Linked DNA regions of Homo sapiens. The protein of the gene in region 1 interacts with the protein of each later gene in a pairwise test. Each region holds a gene or a part of one and is shown on either strand. Other genes may lie near its edges.

Region 1 (8,023 bases):
GGATGTTTAATCATAATTCCAAATGTTTTAAAATTAAAATATGTATATTCTTTTATAATCGCTAAGATAAATGTGTCTTGAAAATTTTGGCAACAGTGATGAAATACATTGTTTTGAAAAGTTCAAGGAGAAATATCAGAGAAATTGTCAATACTGAAAGTTATATGCAGTTAGAAATTTCTTGGTGCCTAAAATAACTTTATAAATAAGACAGCTAAGCCAGCCAGAAATTCAATGGTGATTGCACTCAAAACTCTTCAAAGACCACTGAAGAAGGGAGGTTCAATGAAATATACTTTAAAACTAAACATGTTAAAATGTTCATCCTCACCACCCCAAGACCTAAACTCTGATACTACCAGAGTCTCCATAAGAACAGACAAGCAAACCAAATCCAGCAATATATGACCAAATGGTACAGGAATACCAGTTTGGTTTAACATTCAAAACTCAATTCCATGTTCATGGATTGGAAGGCTCAATATTGTCAAGCTGGCAATACCACCATCACCCCAATTAAATCTACAGATTCAATGCAATCCCAATCATAATCCCAGCTGTCTTTTTTACAAAAATCGATAAAGCTGTATCCTAAAATGTATATGGAAATCCAAAGGACTCAAAATAGTCAAAACAATGTTGAAAAAGAAATACAAAGTCAAATGACTTACAGTCCAGATTTCAAAATGTATTACAAAGATATGATCATCCAGACAGTCTGGTAATGACATAACGATAGCCCAGTGGAAAAATAAATCAATAGAAAAATATTAAGAGTCCAGAAACAAACCCTTACTTTTATGGTCAACTAATTTTCGACAAAATTGCCAAGGCAATAGAATGTAGAAAGGGTTTTTTTCAATTAAAGGTACCGAAACAACTGGGTATCCACATGCAAAAAGGTGAATTTAGGACATCTCACACTTTAAACAAAAATGACCTCAAAATGTAAAACAAAAATGACCTAAATGTAAAAGTTAAAACTATAAAATTCTTCTATGAAAACACAGGAGTAAATCTTCGTGACCTTGGGCTAGACAAAAATCTCTTCAGATACAACAGCAAAAGCATGAGCAATAACAGAAAAACATTGATAAACTGAACTTGATCAAATTAAAGACTCGTGATTTCAAAAGACACTGCTAATGAAGTGAAAAGACAAGCCACAGAATAGAAAAAAATATCTGCAAAGCAGATATCCAATAAGGGACCTGATACAAACAACATCTGCAAATCAATATTAAGACAATCCATTTAAAAATGAGCAAAAGACGTGGAAAGATATTAAACCAAAGACGCTATAGGAATGAGCAATAAGCACATGAAAAGACACTCAGTATCATCATTAAATAGGGAAATGCAAATCAAAATCACAAGGAGCCCATGTGCCTGCAATCCCAGCTAACTGGGAGGCTGAGGCTAGAAGATCACCTGAGCCCAGGAGTTCAAGACCTAGAACATTTTTCGTTGCTATCAGCAATGTATGAAGATTCCAATTTCTTCAAATTCTCAACAACACTGTTATCATTTGTCTTTTTGGTTATGGCCATTTATGTGCATGTGAAGTAGTATCTCATTGTGTTTTTCTTTGTTTTCAGACAGGGTCTCATTATGTTGCCCAGGCTGGTCTTGAACTCCTGAGCTCAAGCAATCCTCCAGCCTCAGCTTCCCAAGGCGCTGGAATTATTGGCCTGAACCACCAGGCCCGGCCGATAATTCTTCATAACAAAAACAGTCACTTTAGGAGGCCGAGGTGGGAGTCTGAGACCAGCCTGGGCAACATAGCGAAACCCCGTCTCTACAAAAAAATACAAAAAAAAAAAAAAAAAAAAAATTAGCTGGGAATGTTGGCATGTGCCTGTAGTCCCAGCTACTTGGGAGGCTGAGGTGGGAGAATTGCTTGAGCCCACAAGGTATAAGGTTACAGTGAGCCAAGATCGCACCACTGCACTCCAGTCCAGGCAACAGACCAAGACCCTGTCTCCAAAAAGAAAAAAAGGAATAATTCTAAAAGACTTATATTGATTTTTTTCCCCAATTAACATTAAACGCCTCCACCTGCCCCGTGGGAAATTGGGTTGGCATGTCACTGAAAGGCAAGTACAATATATTCAGACTTGAGAACCTGAGTCAGCTAAAATCACGGGTATCCAAGAGAACAGCACAGCTAGCTACAAACACAAATAGCCTATCTTGAAGTGACGGGTGGAGGGGTTCAAATAAAAGAAAATTGCTTTCTCAGTTCTTACTATGTATCTTATATGACTTAAGAAAACATCTCACTCCAGCTGATTTCAATTAAGTGCAAAAGGCACCTCAGCAAAGAGCATCTTTAAAAGGAGACTACACAAGCTACATGCTGGCTCCTCCTCTCCTGGCCTAGAAAACCCACGGCTGCTCACTCTACTCTCTACTGGTCACATGACAGGCCCAGTGGACAAACCTAATGCAACTCAACACAAGAACTATGTATGGGTTATTCCTTAGGGCTAGTATATCTGATCTCCCGAATCCATGGCAACAACACTTACTATCTAACCACTAATTTTCACCCCAACCCACCCCCCAATACTGTAAGGATGTCTGTGTGATCACTGTAATCAATGCAGCTTCCTATGCCTGAACTGTAAACCATCGGGCAAAGCTCCCCGGTGGCAGGGACTGGAGGAGGTGATGCCAAACCATGCTGTTCTGGGACACCTGTCCATATGCCAGCCCTAGGTGCTCACTCCTGAAGCATCCTTTAAGAGTCAGGACTATGGACTAAAAGTTCTGCTGCAACAACTCTTGCCAGTGGCTGTAAACAAACAGCCTAGTTCCTTCTCACCCTAGTAGCCACTCCCTATCTAGCCTATTTACAACATCAGACTGTATTTCTCCACCAAACCATCTTTTTTTTTTTTTTTTTTTTTTTTTCTTAGCAGGGTCTCACTCTGTCACCTAGGCTGGAGTGCAGTGGCATGATCTTGGCTCAGTGCAGCCTCAACCTTCCAGGCTCAAACAATCCTTCCACCTCAGCCTCCCAGGTAGCTGGAACTACAGGCACACACTACCACGCCTGGCTAAATTTTGTATTTTTTGGTGGAGACAGGGTTTCACTATGTTGCCAAGGCTTGTCTTGAACTCCTAGGCTCAAGAGATCTGCCCACAATCTCCCTATCTCTATGCTGGACTTCTGGGACCTCAAATGACTTGCAACCATCTGAGAATTCCAGTCCCGATACAAACATTAGTGACAACTCACTCATAAGATCATCCATAGCCAGCTCTGAGGAACAGGTGGGCATAAACCCCAAAGCAATTCTTACTCACCACAAATGTCTTTTTAAAAAAAGAAAAAAAAAAAAAAAAAGGCCAGGTGCAGTAGTAGCTCATGCCTGTAATCTCAGCACTTTGGGAGGCTAAGGCAGAAGAAACACTCGAGTCCGGGAGTTCAAGACCAGCCTGGGCAATACAGTGAGGACCTCATCTCTACAGAAAAATTTTAAAATTAGCCACGTGTGGTGGCACACTCCTACAGTCCCAGCCACTCATAGGAAGCTGAGGTGGGAGGATCACCTGAGCCCAAGAAAGTGAAGGATGCAGTGAGCCAAGATCGTGCCCCTGCATTTCAGCCTGGGTGACAGAGCAAGACCCTTTCTCAAAAAACAAACACCACCACCAAAAACCCTCATCACTAAAAAAAAGACATCACTTCTAAAATCCACAGTGTACTTTTGGCCTTTCAACAGATCAGGAAATTACCACCAAAGAAAAGGCCAGGCGCGGTGGCTCACGCCTGTAATCCTAGCACTTTGGGAGGTCGAGGTGGGCGGACTGCCTGAGCTCAGGAGTTCGAGACCAGCCTGGGCAACATGGTGAAACCCCATCTCTACTAAAAATACAAAAAATTAGCCAGGTATGGTGGCGCCACCTGTAATCCCAGCTACTTCGAAGGCTGAGGCACGAGAATTGCTTGAACCCGGGAGGCAGAGGTTGCAGTGAGCCGAGATCATGCCACTGCACTCCAGCCTGGGCGACAGAGTAAGACTCTGCCTCAAAAAAAAAAAAAAAAAAAAAAAAGGAAATTACCACCAAAGAAAAGATTACTGGCTGCCTTTTTAGAGAGAACCTGCAAAGTGGTAGATTTACCACAGTTCAAACCTGGCTTTCCATCTTACAGGGCAGAGTGACATTAACCAAAACTACAAGGCAGACCTGTGAAACCACAATGCCAAGAACCCACTGTCTTAGGAACCAAACCAGGTTCATCCTCTTGACATAGACAGGCCCATAGCAGTGGTCAAGAAAATCAGCAGTAGGAAGCTAAGAAAATCAGCAACAGGAAGCTGCTTGGTGACCACAGGATCTGATCAAGAGGGCCAGACCGGCAGAGCACTGACCAGCATCAGGCTTACCCAGCCCGATGAACCTACTTCATACTACCAGACAGCCATCTCCACTAAGAGGCACAAAAGAGCCCTCTCTCCAGGACAATTACTAATTGACTAAAACTACCGGAGTGACACATTCATTCTTTAGCTTTATTATACATCCAGTCAGGTCATCCAGGAAGTTATTTTATTTCTCTAATGTGCCCACAAATTGTTACTCTATTACGTTATGCTTCCCCCTCCGCTCCCCACAAGACAGTCTCACTCTGTCACCCAGGCTGGAGTGCTGTGGCACGATCTTGGCTCGCTGCAACCTCCTCTTCCTCCTGGATTTAAGCAATTCTCGTGCCTCAGCTTCCTGAATAGCTGGGATTATAGGCATGCACCACCACACCTGGCTAATTTTTGTATTTTTAGTAGAGACAGGGTTTCAACAAGTTGGCCAGGCTGGTCTTGAACTCCTGGCCTCAAATGATCTGCCTGCCTCAGCCTCCCAAAGCAATAGGATTGCAGGCATGAGCCACAAACCCCAGCCATACTGCATTATGCTTTGATCTACAATTTAGCTCTCAAGAAAGTAATTTATAGGCCGGGCACGGTGGCTCATGCCTGTAATAACTAAATGAGATAATGTTCAAAGAACCAAAAAAATACCACATAAGTCAAACAAATGTAAAGACTGAACTATTCATTCACAAAAACAATTATTTTTCCAGTGATTGCATGCTGTTAAAAAATATATATATAAAGAACACTTTGATACAATTGAAGAAATGTGATTATGAACTGTTAGATAACAGAATCAATGTTGAATTACTTAGATGTAGGAATGGGGATGTGGGTGAGTAGGACAATATTCTTATTCTGGAAAGATGTATGTTGATATTTTGAAGGGTAAAGCATCATGATGTCTACAACGAATTGACCCACGAGTCTTTCTGTATGGAGACATGGAGCAGGTGTGGCAAAATGTTAATAACTGCTCAACTGAATGAAGAAAATACCAGGATCTATTGCACTGAATTTTTTTAAAATTATTCCATGGGTTTGAAAATTTGCAAAATAAAAAATGTGATCTTAAGACTCCCTCAGGAAGGAAAAAAACTTGTAACACAATGTCAAGATAACCTCTTATGTGAACACAAATATTCAATAAGGCTGGGTGCGGCAGCTCAGGCCTGTCATCCAAGCACTTTGGGGGCCCCAGGCAGGCGGATCGCTTGAGATCAGGATTATCAAAGCCACCCTGGGAAAGATGGCAAAACTCCATCTCTACCAAAAATACATAAAACAGCCAGGCATGGTGATGAGCACCTGTAGTTCTAGCTACTCAGGAGGCTGAGGTGGATGGATGGCTTGAGCCCAGGAGGTGGAGGATGCAGTGGGCCAAGACTGCACCACTGCACTCCAGCACAGCAATTGAGCCAGACCCTGCTTCCATCGATGGATCAATCAATCAATCAGTCAATCAATCCCTAAAAAGATGAGCAACGGCCTTATCAATATTTAAGGCTACTATATATAACTTGAAATGCTGCATTTGAAATGTTCAAATATACTGCCTGTGTCTTATAGAAACAATAAATGCTTGCATTTTAAAGCTTCAAATGTTTCTATTTTAAAATTTAGCAAAAAAATGTATAAAAACCATTGATTCTTGCTTTTATCTCATTTCTTGGGGGAAAAACAAAAACAGAAACCATGGACGTGTTCAAAGTATTTTAATGTCCAAAATGAACTGTTTTTCCTCCAGTTTCCATAGAAAATATAACTGACATAAAAAGTATCCCACCACTACAAGGAAATAATCCAGCAAATGCACTCCTGGGTTGAAACAGGGCAGAATGCCAGCTCACCAATGTGAACAGTCATGCAGGCTGTCATGCAGGGCTTTCCGAAGCACTGAGTCCTTGTCATAGATGCCCCAGGTAGCTTGTAGAACTGAATCAAGTAGGCAGTCTCCTGCAGTCCGGTTCCAAAGTGCATACAGTCGACTGTCCAAACGTGTAGCCAATTCCAAGGACCAGTTAATAATTGGAGATTCTTCTTCTAATTCTGTACGATGGATTTAAATACATGTTCATTTCCATACCTATGTCATTAGAGAATACTCATGGGGAGAAGAACCTATTTTCTAGCTATAAAATGGTTTATATGTAATTTACCAATAAACACCTAAATAAAATTGACCAATTGAAATATAAACTTTTGAGTACTTGAAACATCTTCTGTCTCTAGAATAATTTAATAAACTTTTAAATTCTTTACAGTTTTATTTTCTAAAAAGTGTTTCATATAGAAATATATACATTCTGGAACAGGAAGCGGAGAACCAAGGTTTTAAAATTTTTGTATCTTTATTTGTTCACTCTGTAACAGTGAACCATACAATATAACACTGAACTTCAGGACTTTACGTCTTTAATTTAAAATAAAAATAAAGCAAGTTGACTACACACCAAACTACACCATGCCTTACTAAACAAAACTTACTTGATCAGATGAAAGGTAAATTATACTCATTAATTCCATGCTTACCTTTTTGAACGTCTCTATCAAGCACCTCATCAAATAATTTTTCTTGGACTGTTGGGGGCAAATCTTCAATATCTACAAAGAAAATGCAAACTTAAAAGATCTTTTGTTTCATAACTTACACTTAACTTATACTTAATTACACTTATTAATTACCTACTAGTAACTTTCTCTAAAATAACTCCCTTTCCATTGAAGGTTATCAGATAGCTTTTTCTTAATATACCAGTGTAACATGTGTGATATAAAATATTTCTTTTCTGGGCCGGGTGCAATGGCTCACGCCTATAATTCCAGCACTTTGGGAGGCTGAGGCCAGCATACTGCTTGAACTCAGGATTCTGAGCCCAGCCTGGGCAACACGGCAAAACCCTGTCTCTATACAAAAAATATACAAAAATTAATCAGACAAGGCAGCAGACACCTGTGTCCCAGCTACTCAGGAGGCTACGGTGAGAGAACTGTTTGAGCCTGGGGAGGCCAAGGCTGCAATGAGCCGTGATCCTGCCACCGCACTCCAGCCTAGGCGATAGAGTAAGACCCTGTCTCAAAAAATAAAAATAAAAAATAAATTTTTAAAAATCTAATCATTCTGGGGTAAGCTTAAATACTCAGAACAAGTGCATTTCAAATGAAACTTCCTCCAGTTTCAGAAAACTTAGTTACTATCTCCTACAATTTGTAAAAATCCGTTTGTCTGAACATAAAAATTAAAAACACTGAGATCTAGCCTGAGTAATACTGCGAGACTCCATCTCTACAAAAAAATTAAAAATTAGCCAGGGGTGGGTGGCATGTGCCTATAGTCCTAGCTACTCAGGAGGTCAAGGCAGGAGATCACTTGAGCCCAGAAGTTGAAGGCGCAGTAAGCTATGATCACGCCCATTGCACTCTAGCCTGGGCAACAGAGCAAGACCCCGTTTCAATCTAAAAAAAAAAAAAACAGCAACAAAACAAACAGATCTCAGAATCTCAGATGAAAGATTTTAGAAACGTTTGGTGTTTGGTGTATTTATTCAATGCCAACTGACAAAACGCATTCTGGAGGATGTTTTCAACTGTCAATGAATTGAAAAATGAAAAGTTCCTTCACAAACATAGTAGAAATAAATGAG
Region 2 (8,464 bases), on another chromosome or scaffold:
AGAAAGCATGCCAAATGGTTTAGAAACTGTGCAAAATATTACCTATTGACACTTAGCATCGTTTTTGCCCTTCTAAGTTCTGTCTCCTATGAGACATTTATCAAACTCTGTTGCTAATAGTATTTCAATCTAAATTCTACCAAGGAGAGGCACTGTTACAAAATTTGCAAGGAGGAAGGGAAAGAGAAGCCATCAATTTCAGTAGTGGCTGCAGGTAACTTTGTGGGTATCAGCAAACGGCAGATGGAATGTTAAGTCAGCAGATTCTGGGCACAAGGAAGTCTTGAGACTTATCTTGTTGTTACAGGTCAGAGGGATCCTTGGCCATGGTTCCTTGTGACTCCTGCTCTTCCTAATATTTCAAACTCTAGCAATAGCTCCTGGACCTTTGCCCTCTCAGCCTTACTAATTGTTGTATAAGCCTCTAAGACTTTATGCATTAAATCCTTTCCTAGAGGAAACATCTATAGTGTTTGACTGAGTCAAAAGCTTTCTTTTCCTGACTGATAAAAATAGCTAGAAATGAAAATCATGGAAATATATTTTGTTTATATACATACTGCATATTGCATATACACACATATATATATTCTGCATGTTTAAACACTTTGTGAATTGAAACATAGTAACATGAAATCACTTCAATCTACCATTTTGCAATACACCATGAAAAAATATCACATCAGTATACTACTGAAAAATCATAGCTTTCACCAAACTAGGCTCATAAGCAGCCATCAGGAATGGTGTGACCCTTGAGGAAAAGGGCTGTAATACGGTACAATTTTTGGATTCTGTTTAGTTTCATGAAATGGAGGATCACAGACAGAAATCCAATGGCAATGCCTGAAGGCAATGGAGGTTATTTTCTGAATTATTTGAATAATTGAGGTAAAAGTGGAGTTTCTGCCTGGATTATTCAGATAATTGTCTTAATTCTAAACTTCACTTAGCTAGCTGGTAGAGACCTTTGTATAGGATGTATTTTTGGAATGCTAAATGCTAAAAAAAAAGAACTCCTAAAGTAAGCAGAGCTGTGGTGTAATGAGGGTGTATTGGGGGTGATACAGAGATACGGAGGGAGAGAGAGAGAGAAAGGAGGAAAAGAGAAGAAGAGAGAGAATGGTAAATAGCTAATCGTCAGAATAAGATTAAACTTTACTTTCTACTTGATAGTAACCAATGTCCACATTTTCATCACAGAATGAACTTTCTATAAAAAGGGAAATACATATGTAGATTTCAAATATAAACCATAGTATTTTAAAAAGTTACGAATTCCTTTTTAAGCTTTAAAGAGGTAAATTTTTACTTTGTAAGGTTTAGAAACTTCATGCCTTCAAATCCAGCAATTTATATAGTGAAGCAAATTGACTTAAAAATTATACCATACTTTTTGTTTTACTTCATATTGTTGGTCTTTGCCGTTTAATTCTTTTTTCTTTTTTGAGTTTCTGAATACCCCAGAGAAGGTAATCTATTTATTATGAATTCTAGGGCTAGAATATCAGCACAAATATGGAAGTATTTTTAGAAGCTATTGTCACCATAGAAATGTTAGCCACCATTTTTGTCTAGTTTCTTTTTCTTTTAAATTTTATTATTATCCCTAAAACTTAATTCTTAAAGACAAAATAAATTAAAAAAAAGAAGAATGATGACATCCATTCTCTTCTTCATTGGTAACAGAACCCTGGGCAGTAAGCCCAGCCCCCAAATTATTTGCCAACCTCCCCCACAGATGAGTGTGTCATGTGACTAAGTTCTTGCCCATAAGCGGAAGTGTTGTGTGAGACTTCTGGATAGGTCCCTTTTTTTCTGGACTCCTTCTGACCTACAATGCCGACAAGGTGCCTCGATCTCCAGCAGCCATCTTGGGTCATAGGGCAACCTTAAGAATGGAAGCCTCACACTAGGATGGCGAAAGATTAAGGTAGCAGGAACCTGACTTCACGATGACTGTGAAGCTACTATATATCCTCTGGGATGCTCCTTCTGCATTTATTTTACTTAAGAGAGTAAAAATGTATATCTTGCTTAAGACACTATTATTTCTAGTTATTGTTATTAGCAGATGAACACAATTCCTAAGTGATACATATATTAAGGTATTAATTGAAAATATTTTGTGATTTCTAGGATTAGATTTCTAGATACGTGTAATAGCTTTTCCCCTATCCCGCCAGGTACACACACATAAACATGCATTCTAATTTGTAAGAAAGAAAACTAAGTGATTATGTGAAGTTGTACCAGTAATATATTTTGTGCAATTGCAAAGGATAATGCTTTTGCAATGTGAATCATGGGAAAATAAGAATTTGAGCATCACTTAAGAATTTTTCAATGTACCTACATGCACTAAAAAACAAACAAACAAAAAACAAAAAACCAAGGCCGGGCGCTCTGGCTCACGCCTGTAATCCCAGCAATTTGGGAGGCCAAGGCAGGCAGATCACAGGGTCAGGAGATGGAGACCATCCTGGCTAACACGGTGAAACCTGTTTCTACTAAAAATACAAAAAATTAGCCGGGCCTGCTGGCGGGCGCCTGTAGTCCCAGCTACTCAGGAGGCTGAGGCAGGAGAACGGTATGAACGCGGGAGGTGGAGCTTGCAGTGAGCAGAGATGGCGCCACTGCACTCCAGCCTGGGTGACAGAGCGAGACTCCATCTCAAAAAAGACAAAACAAAACAAAACAAACCAAAACAGTAGAGAGGAAGACAAGCAAATACAGAAATGGAATTCAGCAACAGAATATTAATAGTTTTTTCTTTATCTTTTGCAATTAATAGCAAGAAAGGAAGGAAAGATCAATCTATTGAGCAGTCAGATGGAATGGTAAAGATTAATCATTCTCTTCCCTTCAGAAGTTGCCTTAATTCTTTGTCTTTTAAGATCCAGCTCTTTTATAAGGCCCTCACCAATCTCTCAGTAGGAATTAACCTCTGCTCTTTATCAGGACTAGAACCAAGCTACAGCGGGTGAGGCATTTGTCTTGGGTACAAAAGTTAAAACTCAGTAATCAAGATAAATATTTTAATGGAATATTTTAATTGGCAAACTAAGGCATGTGGGCCAGTCTCCTGTTTTTGTAAATAATTTTTTAATTATACTTTGCTTTTATTTGTATTATAGCACTTAAATAGTACTTTTTACATTAGCCCTCTCCCAACAGGGCTGTACTCATTTTTGTATTCCTCATGTACCTACTACTCTGTTTGAAGCATAAAGGCCTCTTAAAAAAATCTTGCATTGAGTTGATTAAAGGATTTTTGCAAGAATATATTGTACTGGTGATGGTGGGGTTCAATTTTCATACTGAATTCAACAATAGCAAAAGAATAACAGAATGATGACTATTTTGAAAGTACTTATAATTTAGTGCTGTGGGAAAAATCACTTGGCTTGTCTTTGACTAAAACCCTGCTGAGCTTAGGGAGATAGAGAATTGTAATATTACATTATGTTCATATAGCACTTTTTCCTACATAAAGTGCTTTCTTTTAATCCTCACCTCAATCCTGTAAGGTCGGTATTGCTATCCCTATTTATTGTAGAGAGATTGAGAAATGAGGTGACTTGCCCAGGGAGTTATGGGCAAAAAGAGGCAGAGCTGGGGTTCTAACCCAGATTTTGTCTGTCACAATTGAATGCCCTTTCTGCGATTATAAATCTTATGTCTCAGAGTTGAATGAGAAACAATTTATACAGCAACTACAATAGCATTCTTATCATTAAAATGTTCTGATTATGTGTGTGTGTGTTTGTGTATGTGTGTGTGTGTATGTGTGTGTGTGATGAAGTAGCTGAACTTGGTATTTTTCGGTAGAGGGTAGGAAACTACACATTGAAAAGCCGAAGATGAAATTATGTTATTTGAGTATTACTTTCTAACTATAACTTTACCACTGATGTGTGTATGATATTCTGCAAAGTGACTAAACTGTACGTGTTTGCTTCTTCATGGAAAAAAAATTTGGGAAGGCATTTAAACTTTTCAGCTGAAAAAGGTTATGTCAATGTGAAAGATTATAGTACTCGAGAATTAGGAGTTGATTAAATTTAACGGTTTCCTTTTCATACTTAGGGGGAAAAATCTACGACTGTATTTTAAAACTCCATATGGCAATTAAATTTGAGAGCGTATAACTAACTACTTCACTAGAATTTCCATCAGTATACAATAAACACACAGTCAAAACCTCAAATGTCCATTATTAGCCCATCTAGTAGACGATATTTTATAATTATGGATTCCCCATATTGATTGATGTCCAGAGAAAAACTGCAGTCTTCTCTTACTAAGCTGATAGTTGAGTTCCTGGGAAATCCTCACCCCCTAAGAACAAATAATTCTCAAAGAAATTCAAAGTCATTCCTTTTGGTGAATTGCAATCAGTCATCAATAACTATTTATGGAATGTCCGAAGGGTGCCTAGGCATTGAAATGGCAAGAGACTTATATTTGCTTAATTCAAAGGATTTCTAAAGGCAGTCTGAGGACTTGCAAGAAGTCTTTAAAGATGCAAAGTGGTGTGTTCTTTAACTGCCCCTACCTGGAATGAATTGAACAGTCTGGGTGTTAGGGCTTTGATGTCTAATCCCGCTTTGCAAGCGAAGACTCCACTGGTGCCAAGCGACAGGCGGGCTGGTGGGCAGACATGGCACCACCACCGGGGGCTTTCAGGACTGGTCCAGCCCTCCCAGGCAGGTGTAGGGCCGACTGCAGCAACAGCGGCCCTGACCCCAGCTCCCATGGCTCCCCTCCCCCCGCACTCCCACCCCCCGCACCCGGCACACACCATCTCCCAGTCACCCAGTCTCGACCGGTTCTCGCGAGATCCGGGTTACTGAGCGCTCGGGGCCTTTTCAAATCGGGATCCGTTACCGCTTCCCCGGCAGCCGCCATTGTCGCGCTCGGAGCCCCTCAGCTCAGGCGGCCGAGGCGGAGGCAGCGGCGGCGGGATGGCGGACGCCAACAAGGCCGAGGTGCCCGGGGCCACTGGTGGCGACAGCCCGCACCTGCAGCCCGCAGAGCCGCCGGGCGAGCCGCGGCGAGAGCCGCACCCCGCGGAGGCGGAGAAGCAGCAGCCGCAGCACAGCAGCAGCTCCAATGGCGTTAAAATGTATTGTCTTTTCCTCCGGGAACCGGGGCGAGGTGGGGGGCGGGGAGTCTACCGGGCGGCTAGAGGCCGGGCTGTGCCCCGATGGGGGACAACCACCCCCAGACCCCGGCCCGCCCCCGGGCCATCGGCTTCCTGAGGAGCAGGTGCAGCTGGGCCGCTCCCAGGCCCTTCCCCGCCCGCCCCAGGCCTGGCCGCCTGTGGTCTGGGAGCCGGGGCTGGGGGCCCGGGGACCAGCGCTCTTCCCTGATTTCTAGCCCGAGACAGCGAACACCCCTCTTCCCTGACTTTGGTTAAAGAATCTTTGAGCAAAGCTCAGCGACCGCCACGGTTTGCAGGAAAATGGTCCCCCTTTAAGGACCAGTAGTTAGTGTTCATCACTAGGGAGTATCTAGGGATGACATCATCGGACATTTCCTCTTAACCACCGAGAACATATTTAAAAGGAATATTCCTGGCTTCTTTCTGAGCTTCACAAGTTTAGTGTTTTGTTGTTTTCTAAAGTGTATGTTCATTTTTAAACTGATTTATACCGAGAGGAAGTTTAATAATGTGCTGTTAGACTCTATGTTTTGTGTTACTCTTGAATTGGCTAGACGTACTTTAAAAAGGGAAATGTGCGATGTGCGTGGCTTCCCTTCCCACTGGGTAATGTGCGTCAGCTGTGGAGAGTATTTTTTTTTTTAACTCAGTGTATGATTATCTTAAGTTTGGTATAATAGATGGTTAAGATTTTTTTTTTCCCAAATGAAGGAAGACTTTTAAGGTCGCAGCTGTCACCAGTGCCTATAAAGAATTTAGTTGACCCCAATCCATAATAATTTCTGGTTCTAGGGAAATGTTATGCTCTCCTTTGTTCCTGTCCTGTGGGAGGATATGAAGTTAAGCGCTTACTTTCATATGCCTACCTCCTTAAACCTGAAGTTGAAAGTATGTTAATAATTAAGTGAAAACATCCTTTTCCTTCTCTGTTATGCCTCAGAGCAGAAAGCAATAGATATATGCTCACAGTAAAATAGACAAGGGAAAGGTCTTTCTGACCTTTGTATAAGCATGTTTGAAATTGTATGGTAAGAACTGGACCAGTCTGTGTAAAAGTTGGTGGCAAAAAAGATGGGGTAGCTCTCCCCAGCTCTTTGACACTCTTGCTCTCAAATGAGTTTGAACAGGATCGGCAGCATCTTCTAGGAGAATAGAGGTGCAGGTATAAGAGATTGGAACTTAGTGGAGTTTATTCCTGGATGAAGAGTGGTGCACCTCAGTAATTGAGGAACCAGAAAGGGAATGAAGTGCTTTCTACCATGCTTGCCAAAATGTGGGCTTTCTGGAATTTGGCATTAAAAATAGAAATGAAAACCGGTGGAATGATAAACTTAAAAATATGTGCTATTCATATCTAAACACGAGTATACATGCCACCTTTTCTCCTGAACAAAAAGTGCAGCCTTGAATTACAGAGAGAAGCCCTCCTATACTTGGGTATGATTAGTTTTGATATAGGGGAAGTTTGGTATCTAAACCTCCATCAGATTTTCTATTCCCTTCTAAAGTCTCTTCATGATTTAGCAAGACAGGAAAAGAGAAAGGAGAAAGGTGGAGAAAGAATCCTTTTCTAATTTAGGAAGAGAAAAATATAAGGTGAAGAAATGAAGAAATATTACTAGTAAATACAGATTATTTCCATATTGCTTATAATTCGCCTCTCCCTTTCTCTTTTTCCCAGAAGTTGAATCGAGTCCAATTTACTCTCAGGGATTTCTCTTACTGTCTATTCCATAAGAAGATTTGTGATGGTCCAGCATGAGTCATTCAAACTGAATAACTAGCGACCTAGTCCTTTTTTTTTTTTTTTTTTTTTTTACTTCGTGAACTAGTAGGAGTGGATAACAACCCCAATACATAAACCTTGAGTTGATTACCATATACTTTTAATAATAAAAATAATTCATTGTTGATTATAAAAATTACCATAATATTGCCCCAAATTATGTATTGGTTGGAATTGAACAGAGTACTGCTTGTCATCAGGATTGAAATAATATTTGCTGAGGTTAATCCATAGTTATTGAGGGTGGGAGACCACTATGTCTTATTCTTCTTTGTATTCTTAAGGCCTAGTAAATATTTGTGGAAGAAATGCAGAAGTGAACTTTCATGCTTATGAAACTCATATACAGGGAATTTAGTTTGCATATTCACACCTTTAGAAAAGATCCGTTTTCCAACTGTAGTCTTCTTCTTTAACGCCAAATGGTATACTAGCTCTCCTTTTCTTAAAAATGAATAGGAGGGAAAAGAGCAGTATTATTATAACTTTATTATTCATGTGTAATTAAGTATAACTTTGGAGTAGGTAGAGATTGAGAGTTATATTAGGGTACTATAAAATATTAAGCATTGGAGCAAGGTAATGTGTTCTTTAGCTGAGTGATTTTTATTAGGAATAAAGACTAGAACTGTTTCCCCCAGCTTTATTGAGGTAAATTGACAAAAATTGTATATTTTGAAGTGTACAGTGTGATGGTTTGGTATACAAATAAATTGTGAAATGATTACCACAATCACGCTAATTAACGTATCTGTTACCTCGCATAGCTACCATATTTTTTGGTGTTGAAAATACTTAAGATCTATTCTTTAAGCAAATTTCAAGTATACAGTAAATATGTTAAGTATAGTCACTATACTGTACCTTAGATCTACAGAACTTACTCATCTTATAACTGAAAGTTTGTGCCCTTAGAACATTTCCCCATCCCCTGCTGCCCTCCACCTCTGGTAAACACCCTTCTACTCTCTGCTTCTGAGTTTGACTTTTTTAAAAGTCTGTGTGTAAGTGAGATCATGTAGCATTTGTCTTTCTGAGTCTGGCTTTTTTCACATAGCCCAATGTCCTCTAGGTTTATCTCTGTTGTTGCAAATGGCAAGATTTTGTTCTTTTTGTAAGGCTGAATAATAATATTCCAGTGTGGATGTGTTGTGTAAACATAAAATATAATATATATCATGTTTCCTTTAATCATTTATCTGTCAATGGACACTTAAGTCGTTGTTTCCATATCTTGGGTATTGTGGATGATGCAGCGAACATGGGAGTGCAGATATCTCCTTGAGATAGTGATTTCATTTTCATTGGATATATACCCAGAAGTGGCATTGATGAATCATGTGGTAGTTCTGTTTTTAATTTTTTGTGGACCCTTGATGCTGTTTTCCATAATGGCTGTACCAATGTATATTCCCACCAGCAGTATCTAAAGGTTCTTTCTCCACGTCCTCAGCAACAGTTGCTATCTTTTGACTTTTCGATAAGTCATCCTAACAGGTATGAAGTGATAT
Region 3 (8,023 bases), on another chromosome or scaffold:
TCAGGATTCCAGCCCCACATTCAGGGCCCCTCTTCTGAGCCTCTTGCTCTAGCCAAAGGCTATGTTTACATTCTTTCCTTTCCGAAGTGTCACCTGTCTTCTGAAATCACAGCTGTTCCCCCAATCCCAGCTTGAGACCTTGATCAAGTCACTGTAACTTATTCTAAGCGCTTTATACATCTGTGATGAAATATGGGCTTGGCTGGGCATGGTGGCTCACACCTGTAATCTCAGCACTTTGGGAGGCCTAGGCGGGTGGATCACCTGAGGTCAGGAGTTTGAGACCAGACTGGGCAACATGTCAAAACCCTGTCTCTACTAAAAATACAAAAATTAGCTGGGCGTGGTGGCACACGCCTGTAGTCCCAGCTACTCAGGAGGCTGAGACACAAGAATCACTTGAACCTGGGTGGTGGAGGTTGCAGTGAGCCGAGGTTGCACCACTGCACTCTATCCTGGGCAACAGAGCAAGACTCCGTCTCAAGAAAAAAACAAAAACAAAACAAAACAAAAAACCAAAAAGAAGAAATTAGGGATTTTCCTTAACACTTCTGTGATCACTAGGAGGTCTTTCTTTCTACTGCTCTGGTCCCTGGCCTGGCTGTCTGGCCAGCTTGTCTTTGGGAACAAACAGAACAAAACTGCAAGAGGCCTTTCTATCACACCATTAACAGAAGTAAGGCATTCCCAGTTACTCTGTCACACCACCTTGTTTATTCCTTTATGACCTTTTGTGCAATCTATGATTACCTCACCTGTTAGAAAAATGAGGATTTTTTTTTTTTTTGAGACGGAGTTTCGCTTTTGTTGCCCAGGCTGGAGTGCAATGGTGCGATCTCGACTCACCGCAACCTCCGCCTCCCAGGTTCAAGCAGTTCTCCTGCCTCAGCCTCGCAAGTAGATGGAATTACAGGCATGCACCACCACGCTCAGCTAATTTTGTATTTTTAGCAGAGATGGGGTTTCTCCATGTTGAGGCTGGTCTCGAACTGCTGACCTCAGGTGATCCACCCTCCTTGGCCTCCCAAAGTGCTGGGATTACAGGCGTGAGCCACCATGCCCGGCCGAGAATGTCTGTTTTTTAGTCGGAAGGTGAACTTCATGAATGATCCTATCTTGTTCACTGCCCTGTTCTCATTTCCCAGTATGATGCTCTGTATGCAGTAGGTGGCCATTAAATGTTTGAATTAATGGATAAATGCATCAAAATAGAGAGGTATACTGCTGTGTTTGAATCACAGCTCCATCATTTACTAGTTATGTGACTTGGGCAAATAACCTCTCTTTTTCAGCTGTATCTTTTTAAAATGGGGCTATTAATAATACCTATCTCAGGGTTTTGATGAAGACTAAATCCAAAGTATGTAAAGCTCTTAGCATATTAGTAAACTTAATGAATGTTAGCTCTTTTTATTGTTATACTGTTTTATGTTTAGGAAAGTAGAAATATTTTATCTAGGATGCTTAATTTTTTTTTTTTTTTTTTTTGAGACCGAGTCTTGCTCTGTCACCCAGGCTGGAGTGCAGTGGTGTGATCTCGGCTCACTGCAACCTCTGCCTCCCGGGTTCAAGCGATTCTGCTGCTTCAGCCTCCCCAGTAGCTGAGATTACAGGTGCGCACCACCACGCCTGGCTAATTTTTTTGTATTTTTAGTAGAGACGGGCTTTCACCGTGTTAGCTAGGATGGTCTGTAACTCCTGACCTCGTGATCCGCCTACCTCAGCCTCCCAAAGTGCTAGGATTACAGGCATGAGCCACTGTGCCAGCCTAGGATGTTTGATTTTAAGGAAAGCTTTTGTTCTTTAGAGGAGTACAACCAGTTTTACTTGAAAATTGAGTTTTCCAAGAGTTCTTGATGTTCGATTGTGTTTATTAATAGAAGTTTTCCTTCCTATTTAATAGTTTATGTATGTCTTTTTCATTTGTGTGTAAGAATTTTTTGAGGACAGAGGGTGTGTTTTACTCATTTTTGTATTTTCCAAAGTGCCTTGCCCACAGTAGGCCCTCATTTCCTTACATGAAAGAAAAGACATCAGTGGGCTTGCAATGGAAAACAAAGAAATTCTGTATTTACATTATCCTTTGTAAACACTGAATAGTATAGTATATTGTTGATACACTCATTTATTTGCTTATGGTTGAATTTAGTTACTTTTCAGTTTTTTAGCTGATGTTTAACTTTGTGAATAGCATAGGGCAGTTGCTGTCTCCTCTGGTTAGAGGATCAGCTGGGAGGGACCTGAGTGATCTGTAACTATTTATATTTATAAGGCATAAAAGGTAGTAAGCATAGTGTAAGTGGAAGGAGACCTGGATTTTGCTCCCATGACCTTGGGTAAGTCCCCTCCTTTGCTTAATGAAGCATCCTCTTCAATGGAGTTGAGCAGAAGGTGACTAAGAGAGCATCCAGGGTGCCTAGTAGAGCATATAGTAAATTTGGGCCTTATTGTGCATATAACCTCATATGTAATGTTATTAAAATCAGTACCAAGGAAGGCTTAAAAATCTTTGAGGGGAAATGTTACTTGTTTATGAACATTTTTGACAAATCCAATAATAGGTTCTTTAAAAGAAGTGGTAGGTAACATGATTAACTGAATCCAGGAAGAAAGTCTTTTTTTTTTTTTTTTTTAAATAACAAGACAGTTTTTCTTCTCTCTCTCTCTTTTTTTTTTTTTGAGTTGGGATCTTACTCTGTCAACCCAAGGTTGAAGTGCAGTGGCGTGATCTTGGTTCACTGCAACCTTCACCTCCCAGGCTCAAGTGATCCTCCTACCTCAGCCTCCCAGGTAGCTGGGAACACCAGTTTGAGCCACCACACCTGGCTAATTTTTTGTGTTTTTGGTAGAGACGGGGTTTCACCGTGTTGCCCAGGCTGGTCTTGAATTTCTGAGTTCCACTTTGCCTCAGCCTCCCAAAGTGTTGTCTATACAGGTGTGAGCCACTGCACCTGGCTGGAAGAAAGTCTTGTTGAGCATCTTGTAGGTTGGAGTTAGAAGGTAGAGAAGGAATTGCCGTTATAACATGCAGTATCTTTGAAATGCAACCCTGCCCTCTGAAACTTTCTCTGTCAGTAACAACATTCCTGCCAGTGCAGGGTGTTTCTGGAATTCATCTTCATTAAAGGAGATATTATCATGTTGTGCGTTTTTATTTATAGGGATTTTCTTTAAATTCCTCATGTCACTTCAGACCACCCTTAAACACTCCTGTAAGTTAGCTGAGTTTAGGTACAAATGCCATAGCTTCTTATAAGCAAAAAGATAGGATGAGGTAAAGAGAAATTATGAGTCTTTTTAAAACAAAACAAAAATAATTTCATAAATTGTTTATTGTAGAAAAATAGAAAATATGTGTGAAGATAATCAATTACCCAGAGATGATTTCTATGAAATTTTGGTGTGTATTCTTAAGAACATATTTGCGTATTTATTCATGTGCACACAGTTGTGTATGTTTTTACAAAAATGGCAACCATAATACATATAATCTTAGAGAATTTTCTCATCCTTAATGTCTTAACCAGTGTTTTGGTAGTGTCATGTCATGGCTACATTTACATGATCCTTTATAAAGACTGTTATGGGTGTACTGTCATTTGTTTATTCACTTATAGTTGAATTTAATTTCTTTTCAATTTTTTACCTTCTGTTTACTCTTCAATAAATATTCCTCGAAAATTTAAATCATTTTGACTTACTCAGGAACGTATAATAATGGTACAGGATTTGGTACATGAACCCAGAATTGAACTATCCTAAGCTAATTCTATATCCTTTTCCAGAACAGTGGTTCTCACAGTGTAGTTAGTGGATTATTGTTGGTTTGAGGGCCTTCTGGTCATCTATGAAGTTTTGGCATGAAATATACCTACATTACAGTAGAATTTGTAAAACAACAACAACAAAAAAACGAGCATCATTTGGTTGGTAGGCAATCAAAAGTTATACCAGTCTTTGAGTTACCTTTTTGGAAATTGAAGTGCTATAGGAAATGTGATCTTATACTGTTCACTTAGTTTGTGGATTGAAATCAAGTTTTAGTCATGGTTTTTTAAGGTGAATCTTTTTCATGTTTAGCATATTTGCAAAATTTTAGTTAAGTTTTAGTAAATTTCATAGGAGTGACAGACATAAGTGCATAGCTAAGCTCATTCCAGCTCTAGATATTCGGAAGAAAAGCAGTGGCACGGTAACTCCTTCTGTAATTGTCTTTGGTATTACTGCAATAGCAAACACTTTTAGATAGATATTAAATAGGCAGAAATACTTTATAAAGCAACCGTTGAGCTTCATTCTGTATCAAATGTTTAATGTAATGGAATATAAATGTAATTACAACCCTTTGTGCTTGATCCTGAACTTCGCCTGACCTCACAGTTTTAACATGAAGCATTCTTTTATTCATGCTTGGGCAGGTAGTGCTCCCAGCTCAACAATTATAAGTCTTTTCCTTTGATTTCCTTGATTGGTATCAGTCTTGTCTCTGGGTTTGAATAAAGAGCAATTCAAAACACTCTGTAAACGAGGCCTGCCTTTCTCATTGTGTGTGCATGTGTGTGTGGGGCACCTTATGGATGAAACTAGGATAGGGACCCCATGGAACTTCTCATGCTTTGTAAGTTGTAAATAAGTTCTCTCCTGTTTTTATCTCCAGTAACCTGACTTATTGCAAGGCTCAGTAAAGATTTCTTCCTGATACACCAGAGCTGTGCCATGTCTGTTGGAAAGCATTTCTAAAAACCCTGTTAAGGCCAGGCGCCGTGGCTTATGCCTGTAATCCCAGCACTTTGGGAGGCTGAGGCGGGCAGATATCTTGCTACGAGATCAGCCTGGTCAACATGGGGAAACCCCGTTTCTACTGAAAATACAAAAATTAGCTGGGTGGTGATGGTGCATGCCTGTAATCCCAGCTACTACTCAGGAGGCTGAGGCACAAGAATCTCTTGAACCTGAGAGGTGGAGTTTCAGTGAGCTGAGATTGCGCCACTGCACTCCAGCCTGGGCAACAGAATAAGACTGTCTCAAAAACAAACAAACAAACAAAAAACAACAAACCAAGAAAAGCCCCTGTTAATTGGGGTCTGCTATCTGCTAATGTGGCATTTATCTGGGTCACAGGCTCAAGCCTTTAAAGAGTGGTTAGGATATAAATGATAAGTGAAATTGTAACTTTAGCAACTTCCCTTATCATTATAAAGTGGGAGGCAACAGAGACTTCTCTGTGTTTTGAATGTGTGTTTAATGATTCTTCTGTGATTTAAGTACAAAACGCAAACCAATCTTTGCATCACATTCTGAAGGTTAACCCTGTCTTATCCAGCAAGTTACAGGCTTAGTCGTTCAATAAAATAGGTAAATGTAAGTTCCGTTAGGTTTTAAAAATGTCATAACTTTTTTTTGTCTTCTGAGTGGGGATTTATGTTATTACTGATTATTTCACTAACTGGTAATAGGGATGGGATTGACTATTAGAATACTGTTAACTTCTCACTCCACTAAACAAATGATAGAGAAAAATGTGAATGTTGTTACATGAATAATTTAATATTGCTTTTGAATTAAAGTTTTAAGGACCATAAAGTCAGGATCTGTCGATGTATGTTTTCTAAATTGTTTTTGATATTGAGTAGAATAAAAATATTAGTAAATGTTTGGGAAAAAAACTCAAACTTTTTTCCCTCTGTTCTCATACCACAACAGTCATCAACACAGATGATTTCTGTAACCAAACCTATGGGGGTTTCTCCTCACCACCAAGCGAGCAATCATTTCTGCAGTGGACACCAACTGGGTGTCCTTTAGTTCATTTCCTACACTGTTTGACTGGATATAGTGTCAGATCCCAGAGATAGAGGGCTTAGTCCTCGAAGCTGCCCCTTTCCCACCCTGTTCAGACACCAGTCACGAGTTTGGGCCTCCGGAACTTAAAACTTGACTGGCTTCAAGTTGGGGTTCTCATGGCTCCCCCTCTTTGGGTTTGGTTAATTTGCTAGAGCAGCTCACAGAACTCAGGAAAATACTTATTTTACTAGTTTATTATAAAGGATATTGCAGAGGATACAGATGAAGAGATGCATAGGGCAAGGTATTGGGGAAGGGATGCCAAGCTTCCATGAGTTCAGTGTTCAGCTAGCTATTTGGAAACTCTCTGAACCCAATCCTCTTGGGTTTTTATGGAATCTTCATTCCTTCAGGGTATATGGGGTGGGACCCTCTCTGGAATGAGAGTCTTATGACCCACATCACAAAGGTGGGGGTTAGACACTTGCCTTCAGGTAGGGTGAAAGGAAGAGAGCAGGAGAAGGTTGGAGAGAGTCTGTTTCCTGAGGCCTAAAGCACCCAACACTATAACGAGACTGCAACAAGGCTAGGGGAGTTATTAGCCAAGGAACTGTGGACAGATACACACACACACACACACACACACACACACACACACATACACACACACACACACACACACACACACAAAATAACACAGCAAATCATCCACGGGATCTAAAGAAGCATGATACAGTAAATGCCTATATACCTACCATCTAACTTATTAAAAAGAACATTACCAGGAAAACAAGTGAAAACAGAAGGCTCCTTTTTCTTTGTCCCTCATCCAAGAGGTATTCCATATCCTGAATTTTGTGTTTATCATTCATTTGCATTTCCATGTTTGATTTCTTAAAAAATGTATTTTTAATGTTTTTGAAATTTTTTTTACCAACAAAATGATTACATGTATTCTTTTACAACATGCGTTTTTTTGTTTGTCATTATGTTCCTGAGATTTATCCATGTTTCATTGTAGCTCTGGTTCATTTTCATTGTTTTCACTGCTATGTGATATTCCAATAAATTAATATATCATAACTTTTACATTCTTCTGTCAATGGAAATTTGGGTTGTTACGGTTTTTCTATTATAAATAGTCCTCCTCTAGACATTCTTGTGCCTGATTCTTGGTGCCTGTTTGTAAAAATTTCTCTTGGGTATACCCCTAAGGAGTAAATTTTTTGGGTCATAGGATATGTGTTTAGCTTTACTTTGATGATACCAGATTGTTTTCCAAAGTGGTTGTACTTCAAAATAAATAATTGGGACATAATTAAAGTAAAAAGCTTCTGCACAGCAAAAATAATAATAATAATCACAGTAAACAGACAACCTGTAGGGAGAAAATATTTGCAAACTATGCATCTGACAAAGGACTAATACCCAGAATCTACAAGGAACTCAAACAAATCAGCAAGAAAAAAAAATCAAATAATCTCATCAAAAAGTGGGCAAATGACCTAAATAGAATTTTCTCAAAAGAAGATATGGCCAACAAACATATGAAAAAATGCTCAATGTCACTAATCATCAGGGAAATGCAAATTAAAACCACAATGAGATACCACCTTACTCCAGCCAGAATGGCCATTACTAAAAAGTCAAAGAACAATAGATGTTGGCATGGATGTGATGAAAAGGGAATACTTAAACACTGCTGGTGGGAATGTAATTTAGTACAACCACTGTAGAAACCACTGGGTATCTATCCAAAGGAAGAGAAGTCATTATATAAAAAGACACCTGTATATGTATGTTTATCGCAGCACATTTCACAATTGCAAAGATAGGGAACCAACCTAAGTGTCAGCTGATGAGTGGATAAAGCAAATTTGATATATATACATCATGAAATACTCCCCAGCCATTAAAAAAAGAATGAAATAATATCTTTTGCAGCAACGTGGAAGGAACCAGAGGCTGTTATTCTAAGTGAAGTAACTCTGGAATGGAAAACCAAGTACCAGGTCGTCTCGCTTACAAGTAGGAGCTAAGCTGTGGGTACTCAAAGACATTCGGAGTGGTATAATGGACTTTGGAGACTCAGAAAGGGGGAGGGCTGGCTGAGGGTGAGGGATAAGAAACTACATATTTAGTACAATGTACATACTAGGATGACTGCACTAAAATCTCAGACTTTAGCATTAAACAAAAAACAAAAATGGTGGTACTTATAGAGAGTTTATGTTGTTTC
Region 4 (8,023 bases), on another chromosome or scaffold:
AGAATGCCACTAAAACTCTTCCTATTATGGAGTTTTTTGTACTAACATCAGAGCAAGAGGTAGAAACTATTAATACTATATTTAATAATTAAACGATATGTGTTCCTATGAGTAAATATATTAATAGTATATTTAATAATTAAATGATATGTGTTCAAAGTTTCAAAGTTCACCTTTGATATTTTCCATCTCCTTAAAATGAGAATGTGTAATTAGCCATTTCTAGAAATGGTGACTATAGTTAATAATAATATATTACATATTTGAAAATTGCTAAGAAAATAGATATTAAGTGTTCTTACCACAAAATGATAAGTATATGAGGTAATGGACATGTTAATAGCTGTATTAAGCTACTTCACAATGTATACATAGTTCAAAGCATGCTGTACACAATATATACAATTTTTATTTGTCAATTAAAAACAAAAAATAAGATCAATGAATAGCCATTTCTTTGTCATAAAACTTTTAAAAATTTTATTTCAATTTTTAGGAAAAATTCTTAAAAATAATGAGACTCTAGTACAACATGGAGTTAAGCCACAGGAAATTGTACAAGTGGAAATCTTTTCTACAAATCCAGATCTGTATCCAGTCAGAAGAATAGATGGATTAACTGATGTCTCTCAAATCATAACTGTCACTGTCCAAACTGGTTCGTTATTTGATGTCTTTTAGATAAAGTATTTTTGAGTCCCTTCTTGGTTGAGCTTTCATTGAATCTTGGTGTTATCTCTCAGGACTTGATCAATACCAGCAGGTACCTGTTGAGATTGTCAAATCTGACTTTCACAAACCATTTCTTGGTGGATTCAGACATAAAGTAACAGGAGTAGAGTATCACAATGCTGGAACACAAACTGTACCTAAAAGGATTCCCGAAAGACTCAGTATATTTTGTAGGGATACGCAGGTAATGTTTTTATTTGTCTCTTTAGGTTTTTGAAGGTATAGACTCAATAATTGTACTGTATGACTCTCTCAAATTTCTCTTAAGTAATTATATGGCAATTAATAAAAGAAAATGAACTCACATATGTAGAAAAACTCCCTTATGTATATATATAGGGGATACTGATTTAAATTTTTAATGTTTTCTTTTAGACAGTTTTTCAGAAAAAAAATCTCCAACAAACTACAAATACAACATCCACACAGATGACTAACATTGGTGTATATGTATCAAATATGACTGATAAACTGGTAACACCAGGAAAGTATTTTTCAGCAGCAGAATACCATGCTCAAAGACTAAAGGCGGTGAGATAACTTTTATTGTGGATGAATACTAAAAATTTGATATATAAGCCAGTTGTTCCGAGTGTGTCTCTTTCTCCAAGCCACATTTGCTTGAGAAAGAATGCTCATGAGTATGGGTCATATTTCACTGCTAACAAAGCAGTCTTTATCTCCAGTATTCCCCCATGTAAAGAACCAGCATCCTAAATGCTCCTAATCCTTCCTTTTCTCTTAGGGAAACCCAGCTTCTTTGTGTATTGCCTTTGGCCATTATTAGCCTTCTCAACACTGCTGTCCCTTGGCCTTAAATCTTGTCACAGTAGAATCACCAAGGGAACTTTCGAGACTAATTGAAACCAAATAGGACAGTAGTCGATTTTCTCTGATATTAACATAGCCGCTCCAACTCTGTTTTATTTTTTTGCATAGTCTCTCATTTTTCATTCTTTTACTTTCAACCTATTTGATCTACCTCCTACCATCAATTTACTGTGAGTAAAAATGACCTGAAAGCAGTGACTTTAAGAGATTTTGCTTTTCAAATGACAAGAAATCTGGAGCTAGGCTATTCAGCCCAAGACCTTTAGAGACAAACTTGTAGTGAAAAAAAGTTAAGTCTGTTGACTTAATTGCCCTGAAGGAGACAGTATACCAGGGGAACCATGGGGTTAACTTTATAGCAGGCTTTATCAGTGCCAGTTATTCCAGCCTGATAATTTTTTACTTTTTCAGTCCAAACTAAATTTCACCAAATAAAGGAATATATGGAGTTATTATATAATTTGGGGAAGAGTGAAGTTTGAGTGGGATTTAGGGGAAGCAGTATTCTGATTGTCTCAATGCAAAACAAGGGTGTGTATAAATGGGCCAACATTAGGTCTGGACTGTGAAGTAGACCAAGGTCACGTTCCTTTGGAAACAAAGTTAAAAGAGATGGGAAATGTTTCTTAGAAGTTCTCTGAAGTTCAGCACCTTGGTTGTATAATTGAGGCTGCTTCTCTCTGTCAAAGTGACGTGCAACCTCTAGGCAAGAGTGGAATGTTTGTTTCTTACTGATCTAATTTCAGACAGGAAAGTTTCTGATAGTTTCTGAATTTAGAGAACGAAGTTTCTCAGTGAGTAAGAAGATAGCAGTCACTAAAAGAAGGGGATTGTTGAAATATTTTATAGTTGTAGAGTGTCCTTGGGAGAAATACTGTTTTTGTTAATTTTGTAGCTGACCTGATTAGTGCCTGTTATTCCAGCCTGACAATTTTTTACTTTCTCAGTCTTAATTAATTTTTACTTTCTTACTATACTGGGCATGGGTGGTGACTCTATGATGTCATCAGAATCATAAACTCCTTTCATCTTTCTACTCCATTAAGCTCATCATGAGCTTGTTACTGTATGAAGATAAAATGGTTGACTAACTTTCATCATGCCTGCATTCCATGTGAGAAGAAGGGAAAAGTCAAGGCAGCATGTTCCATGAATGCCACCTTCAAGGATTTCCCCGGAAAGCCCCACCCAGTGACTTCTACTTGCATCCCATTGGCTTGAACTATGTCATGTGACTATCCCTACTGCAAAAGTGTGTGATAAATGAATTTTTAAAGTAGCATATCATTGCTCCTCAATGAGATTGCAATCTTAGTAAGAGAAAGTAGGGCAAAATGGATATTAAGTAAGGAAATGGAAATTTCTGTCATTTTCCAAACTCCAAAAAATGATATTGAAAGAATAAAAGTATAAATATACAAGGACAAAGAATACATGAGAAGAGTAAATGTGAGTTGTGTTTTTTTTTTGAAGTTTTAAAGCAGATGGAAAAGTGTTAACTTGACTTAGTAGAGCAGAGGAAGTGAAAATCTAAATGCTGCCAACGAGGATGGCATCAAGAACCAAATAGATTTGCCCCATAGAGTCTTGAAAGGTGAATTGGAGGTTCTGTGGGAGGTGGAAGTGAGGTGTGACCTGTTAACAGAGGAATTTGTTAAAAGCCGGTATAGGGAGTACATTTCCGTTTAATAAGTTCTTTTAACCTTGATTCCTTTCTACTTGGGTCATGTTTATTTTATTTTTTTAATAGGTTTTGAGTTCACTGCTTACTATTTTAAATCTTTCTTGTTTCAAGAAAGATGATATTTTGCGTGACTACTGATATTTTTGGACTCATTCTTGCTATTTCATTTTGTTTTATTTACTAATTATTCTTATTTGTTTATGCTTTTTTTAGCCTTTTCTTTTTGTTGGTTTGAATAAATGTTTCTTTTTTTGTTCTTTCATAGTTCAGAAATAAGTATTTTGTTTTTTCTAGTGGTTATGTTACAGAAAAGTGGTCCCGATCCAGACCCCAAGAGAGGGTTCTTGGATCTCCCACAAGAACTAATTCAGGGCAAGTCCATAGAATAAAGTAAAAGCAAGTTTATTAAGAAAGTAAAGGAACAAAAGAATGGCTACTCCACAGACAGAGCAGACCTGAGGGTTGCCTGGTGCTGGTTGCCCATTTTTATGGTTATTTCTTGATGATATGCTAAACAAGGGGTGGATTATTCATGCCTCCCCTTTTTAGACCATATAGGGTAACTTCCTGATATTGCCATGGCATTTGTAAACTGTCTTGGCGCTGGTGGGAGTGTAGCAGTGAGGATGACCAGAGGTCGCTCTTGTCGCCATGTTGGTTTTGGTGGGATTTAGCTGGCTTCTTTACTGCAACCTGTTTTATTAGCAAGGTCTTTATGACTTGTATCTTGTACTGACCTCTTATCTTATCCTGTGGCTTACAATGCCTAGCTGTCTGGGAATGCAGCCCAGTAAGTTTCAGCCGCATTTCACCCAGCTCCTATTCAAGATGGAGTTGCTCTGGTTCACACGCCTCTGACAGTTACTCATACACATTTTTTAACATAACTAATTTTTTTATACCAAGTGCATATCTAATCAGCCTATATATCGTTTCCATGAATAAGTCAAGAACCTTACTAGGCTTTTCTTCATTTTCTGCCCCCTCCTTTCTTTGTTTCCTCTTTCTAGAAGCTGTCAGGATTTTCACTTTATCCTTGGTATTTGGTAATCTTATTGTAATATGCTTGAGACTTGGTGATGTACCCTTTCCGAGAGTCCATGTCTTGCTGTGGGAAATATACCTCTATTATGTTTTTATGAATTTCTGTAATCAACTTTCCTTATTTTATCTGGAACTTATCTCAGAAATATTTTGGGATGAGGCCAGATGCTGAGGCACATGCTTGTAATCCCAGTACTTTGGGAGGCTGAAGTGGGCAGATCACTCGAGGCCAGGAGTTGGAGACCAAGCTCGGCAACTTGGTGAAACCCTGTCTCTACTAAAAATACAAGAATTAGCTAGGCATAGTGGCACGTGCCTGTGGTCCCAACTGCTCAGGAGGGGAAGCATGAGAATCACTTGAACCCAGGAGGCGGAGGCTGCAGTGAGCTGAGATCACACCACTGCACTCTAGCCTGGGTGACAGTGAGACTTCGCCTAAAAAGAAAAAAAGAAAAAAAGGAAACATTTTGGAATGCTGGGATTTATCTTTTGTGTCTCTTATTTTTCATTCATTCATTTAAATTTTTATGAGCCTTTGTCCTGCATGCTAAAAGATTTTCTCACCTAATTTTCTTACCTACTTATTACTTCTTATGTTCTACACATTCTGCAGATCAGCTTACAAGAAACTACTAGTTCTCTGTCAATACCCATTTTTTCCCTTCTCCTATTGTAATAAAGCTTTATCTGAGCATGTGGCTGTTCCACTGATGACCACATTTCATCACTTCCCTTGTGTATCAGTGAGGCCATATAACTAAGATCTGGACAGCGAGATGTGAGGGACAATGTGAGCCACTTACAGTTATCATTCTTAAAATGCTCTTTGTTCCTTTTCCCTCTATTTACTGGTTGGAAGATGGTAAGTGGACCAGCCATCTGGGACATATAAGTAGGAAGCCATTTGTTAAATATGACAGAGCTTTCCTACGAGCCCTAAACTGCTTTGCTAATCCCTGGATTGTCATGTGAAAGGGAAAAAACTTCTGTGTTGTTTAAACAACTGTGTTTTGGTGTTTTAAATAAGTTGAACAAGTTTAATAGCACTCAGGCTAATCCATATTCTATTAATTTTTTAAATTTCAAAAATAAAATTTTTGCCAGTCTTTTTTCTTGGTTCATTATATTATTTTATACTGATAGCCTTTCCTTTCTCTGTGAAAATATTAACTATATCTAGTCTGCTCTTGTATTTTGTTTTGTTTTGATTTACTCTAGTAGTTCTAAAACTTTACTATAAGCATCATCTGGAGGGCTCATGAATATATAGAATGCTGTGCTTACCCAGGAGTTTCTGATCAATAGCTCTGGGGTGGGGCCTGAAAATTTGCATTGCTAATAGTTTTCTAGATGCCGCTGATGTGTTTGAGATTCTTAATGTCCAGTGTGCCAATAGCATATTGGTTCACCCAGTCTGACCCCATGATTTTAGGGGAAATGTAAAGCTTGATTATGGGAGAAACCTAGTTTTCTGGATAGGGGGCTTTTTTTTTTTCATCCTGGGTGTCACCTTCTGGGACACTCACCACTCTTGCCTAGGGACAAATATCTCTGTTGCTCCTTGCCTAATTATTTTAGAGGAACCTATCCCTTTTGCAGTTTTTAAAGTCACCTGGTTAGTGGCCACTCTGCTCAGACCATCCATCAGTTTTGGGCTTAGAGCAGTCCTAGAGCCCCTTGTTTTTTCTGACTTGCTTCTCCAGTGCATGATTAGGTTACAGACTCTTTCTTCAATTAATTCTACTGGCCTCTTTTGTTGAAGGGATTCTTCAAAGTTTCTATTCTTTTGGGGGACCCCTTCAGTTTGATCTAGTATCTTTGTCGATATCTGCTTTACATAGTTTTTCTACAATTATTAGGCATTAGGATGAGAGTAAGGGATGCATCAGCATAAGCTCTATCATCAGTCTTGATCCGGCCTCTTCACATTTTATTTTTATTTATGAGTTTAATAAATAAAATTATAAACTCTCAGAAAAAAATGATAAACTCTCTCAGCTATATCATAAACTTTTTGAGGGTTTAGTACTATGGTGTACTTTCAAACATATTCATGTTTCATACAAGTTAATAAATATTTGTTTGCTTCAGTCTCCATTTTATCTAACCTGCCTTTGGTGGTTTCCACACATACCTACCTGATGTGTATTTAGGAAAACACAGTTTTGTTATAAACATGAGCCTAAGCTAGTGGCATTTAAGATAAGATGGAGATAATTAATATGTATGACAATAATAGTATTTATTGAGGACTCATGATGTACCAGGCTTGGGTTAAGCACTTTATATGTATACTCTTATTATCACTGTTTTACACATGAGGGTACTAAAGCATAGAGATGGCAAGTAACTTATCCAATCAAACAACTAGTGAGTAGCAGAAGGAAGATTCAAACTAAGTTTTACTCCAGAGTCTATTCTGTTAAGGATCGTACAAACATCCTTCTGGGAAGGTATATTTGCGAGATGTCAAAGTCAAATAGCAGTCACATGCATTATACATGTTTTTTATGTTAGTGTTTGTGAAAATATGTATTTGGAGCTAAAACTAGACTCAGTTATTTTGTTGTGGAATTGGAATTGAAATAATCATCATTGCCTTTATTGTCTGATCAAAAAGTTGATGATAGGCACTTTCTATTTCCTTTTAATTTAACTATAGGTGATAGTGATACAGACTTACTACAGGCAATGGCATGCTAAAATCTTCGTAGAGAATTTAAGAAGACAGAAAAGCTTAAGACTGGAATGGGAAACACAGCAAGAACTAAGGAAGATAAGAGAAAAAGAAGAATGGATAAAATTGGACTATCACCGGAGGCATAATCCTAAAACAAATGAAGATTTTGAATTTCTTTATAATGCATTAGAATGTAAGTTGGACACAGGCTTTGCAAAAAATATTTTTAAATTCTTCATTAATAGGAAAAACAGATTTACTGCAGACAAAAGGAAGGTGTTATTATTTTAGGGAGATGTCTTGGAAATTTGCAGTAGAGAATTTTGAAAGATGAATACCACTTTATATTTGGAATAAGAATTAAGGCTGAAATGAAATTAGAAATGCTTTTATATTAACAATTAAAATGTACATACTGCTTTGTGAATTATGCAGTTTTAGTATATTATTTCATTTGATCCTCATTCATGTGAGATAAAGAGAGAAAGTACTGTGTAATCTAGTTTTCTTGTGGTTTGGGAATTTTGAACTCAGAGTTGAGCTGTTCTTTAATCCCTCAATCCAGCATCCTGTCTGATTTTGCTCTTTAGAGAAGGGGCTTGGCAATATTTTTAAAATTCCCCCTTATTAATAATACTATATAAATGTATATTCTCTACACCTTGACTTTTATACCTTATTTCTTCTACAGTGTGTGTGCTAGTCATGGATAAATTAAAAGTTTCAGTTATTTGAACAAGCCAGGCACTCTTTACCCAGGCAGTAGATACACGATTCCCCTTCTTGGAGGTGTTTCTCCATTGCCCACCTTTGGATCTCAGGTTAAATGTCACCTGCTTAAAGGTTTTTGTGAATGACAACATAAGTTGGATATTCTTTTGTCATCTTATGGTCCTCATTGCACCTGAAACTTTTCATTTTTATCACCACAGTTGGTAATACTACATCTTTTTTTCAGTCTCAGTTATTTCTTTAGTAATAATACATCTTTTGTTTAACATTTATTTCTGCCATGAGGGAATAATTCATTTATTTTTTGATGAGCTGCCTTT

Evidence for each region.
Region 2: the proteins of ZRANB1 (region 1) and MYEF2 interact in binary tests that used the Homo sapiens proteins (3 or more experiments, as listed by UniProt).
Region 3: the proteins of ZRANB1 (region 1) and METAP1 interact in binary tests that used the Homo sapiens proteins (3 or more experiments, as listed by UniProt).
Region 4: the proteins of ZRANB1 (region 1) and IQUB interact in binary tests that used the Homo sapiens proteins (3 or more experiments, as listed by UniProt).

The regions. Positions count from the first base shown.
Region 1 is NC_000010.11:124,972,605-124,980,627, reverse strand, and holds part of ZRANB1 (ubiquitin thioesterase ZRANB1), read right to left. Parts: intron 6,984-8,023; coding exon 6,912-6,983; intron 6,429-6,911; coding exon 6,230-6,428; intron 1-6,229. UniProt on the Homo sapiens protein: Ubiquitin thioesterase, which specifically hydrolyzes 'Lys-29'-linked and 'Lys-33'-linked diubiquitin. Also cleaves 'Lys-63'-linked chains, but with 40-fold less efficiency compared to 'Lys-29'-linked ones.
Region 2 is NC_000015.10:48,174,741-48,183,204, reverse strand, and holds the start of MYEF2 (myelin expression factor 2), read left to right. Parts: upstream 1-4,909; 5' UTR 4,910-4,967; coding exon 4,968-5,128; intron 5,129-8,464. UniProt on the Homo sapiens protein: Transcriptional repressor of the myelin basic protein gene (MBP). Binds to the proximal MB1 element 5'-TTGTCC-3' of the MBP promoter. Its binding to MB1 and function are inhibited by PURA.
Region 3 is NC_000004.12:98,998,041-99,006,063, forward strand, and holds part of METAP1 (methionine aminopeptidase 1), read left to right. Parts: intron 1-8,023. UniProt on the Homo sapiens protein: Cotranslationally removes the N-terminal methionine from nascent proteins. The N-terminal methionine is often cleaved when the second residue in the primary sequence is small and uncharged (Met-Ala-, Cys, Gly, Pro, Ser, Thr, or Val).
Region 4 is NC_000007.14:123,495,837-123,503,859, reverse strand, and holds part of IQUB (IQ motif and ubiquitin-like domain-containing protein), read left to right. Parts: intron 1-496; coding exon 497-658; intron 659-743; coding exon 744-916; intron 917-1,107; coding exon 1,108-1,263; intron 1,264-6,953; coding exon 6,954-7,164; intron 7,165-8,023. UniProt on the Homo sapiens protein: Adapter protein that anchors the radial spoke 1 (RS1) complex to the A microtubule of outer doublet microtubules in axonemes. The triple radial spokes (RS1, RS2 and RS3) are required to modulate beating of the sperm flagellum.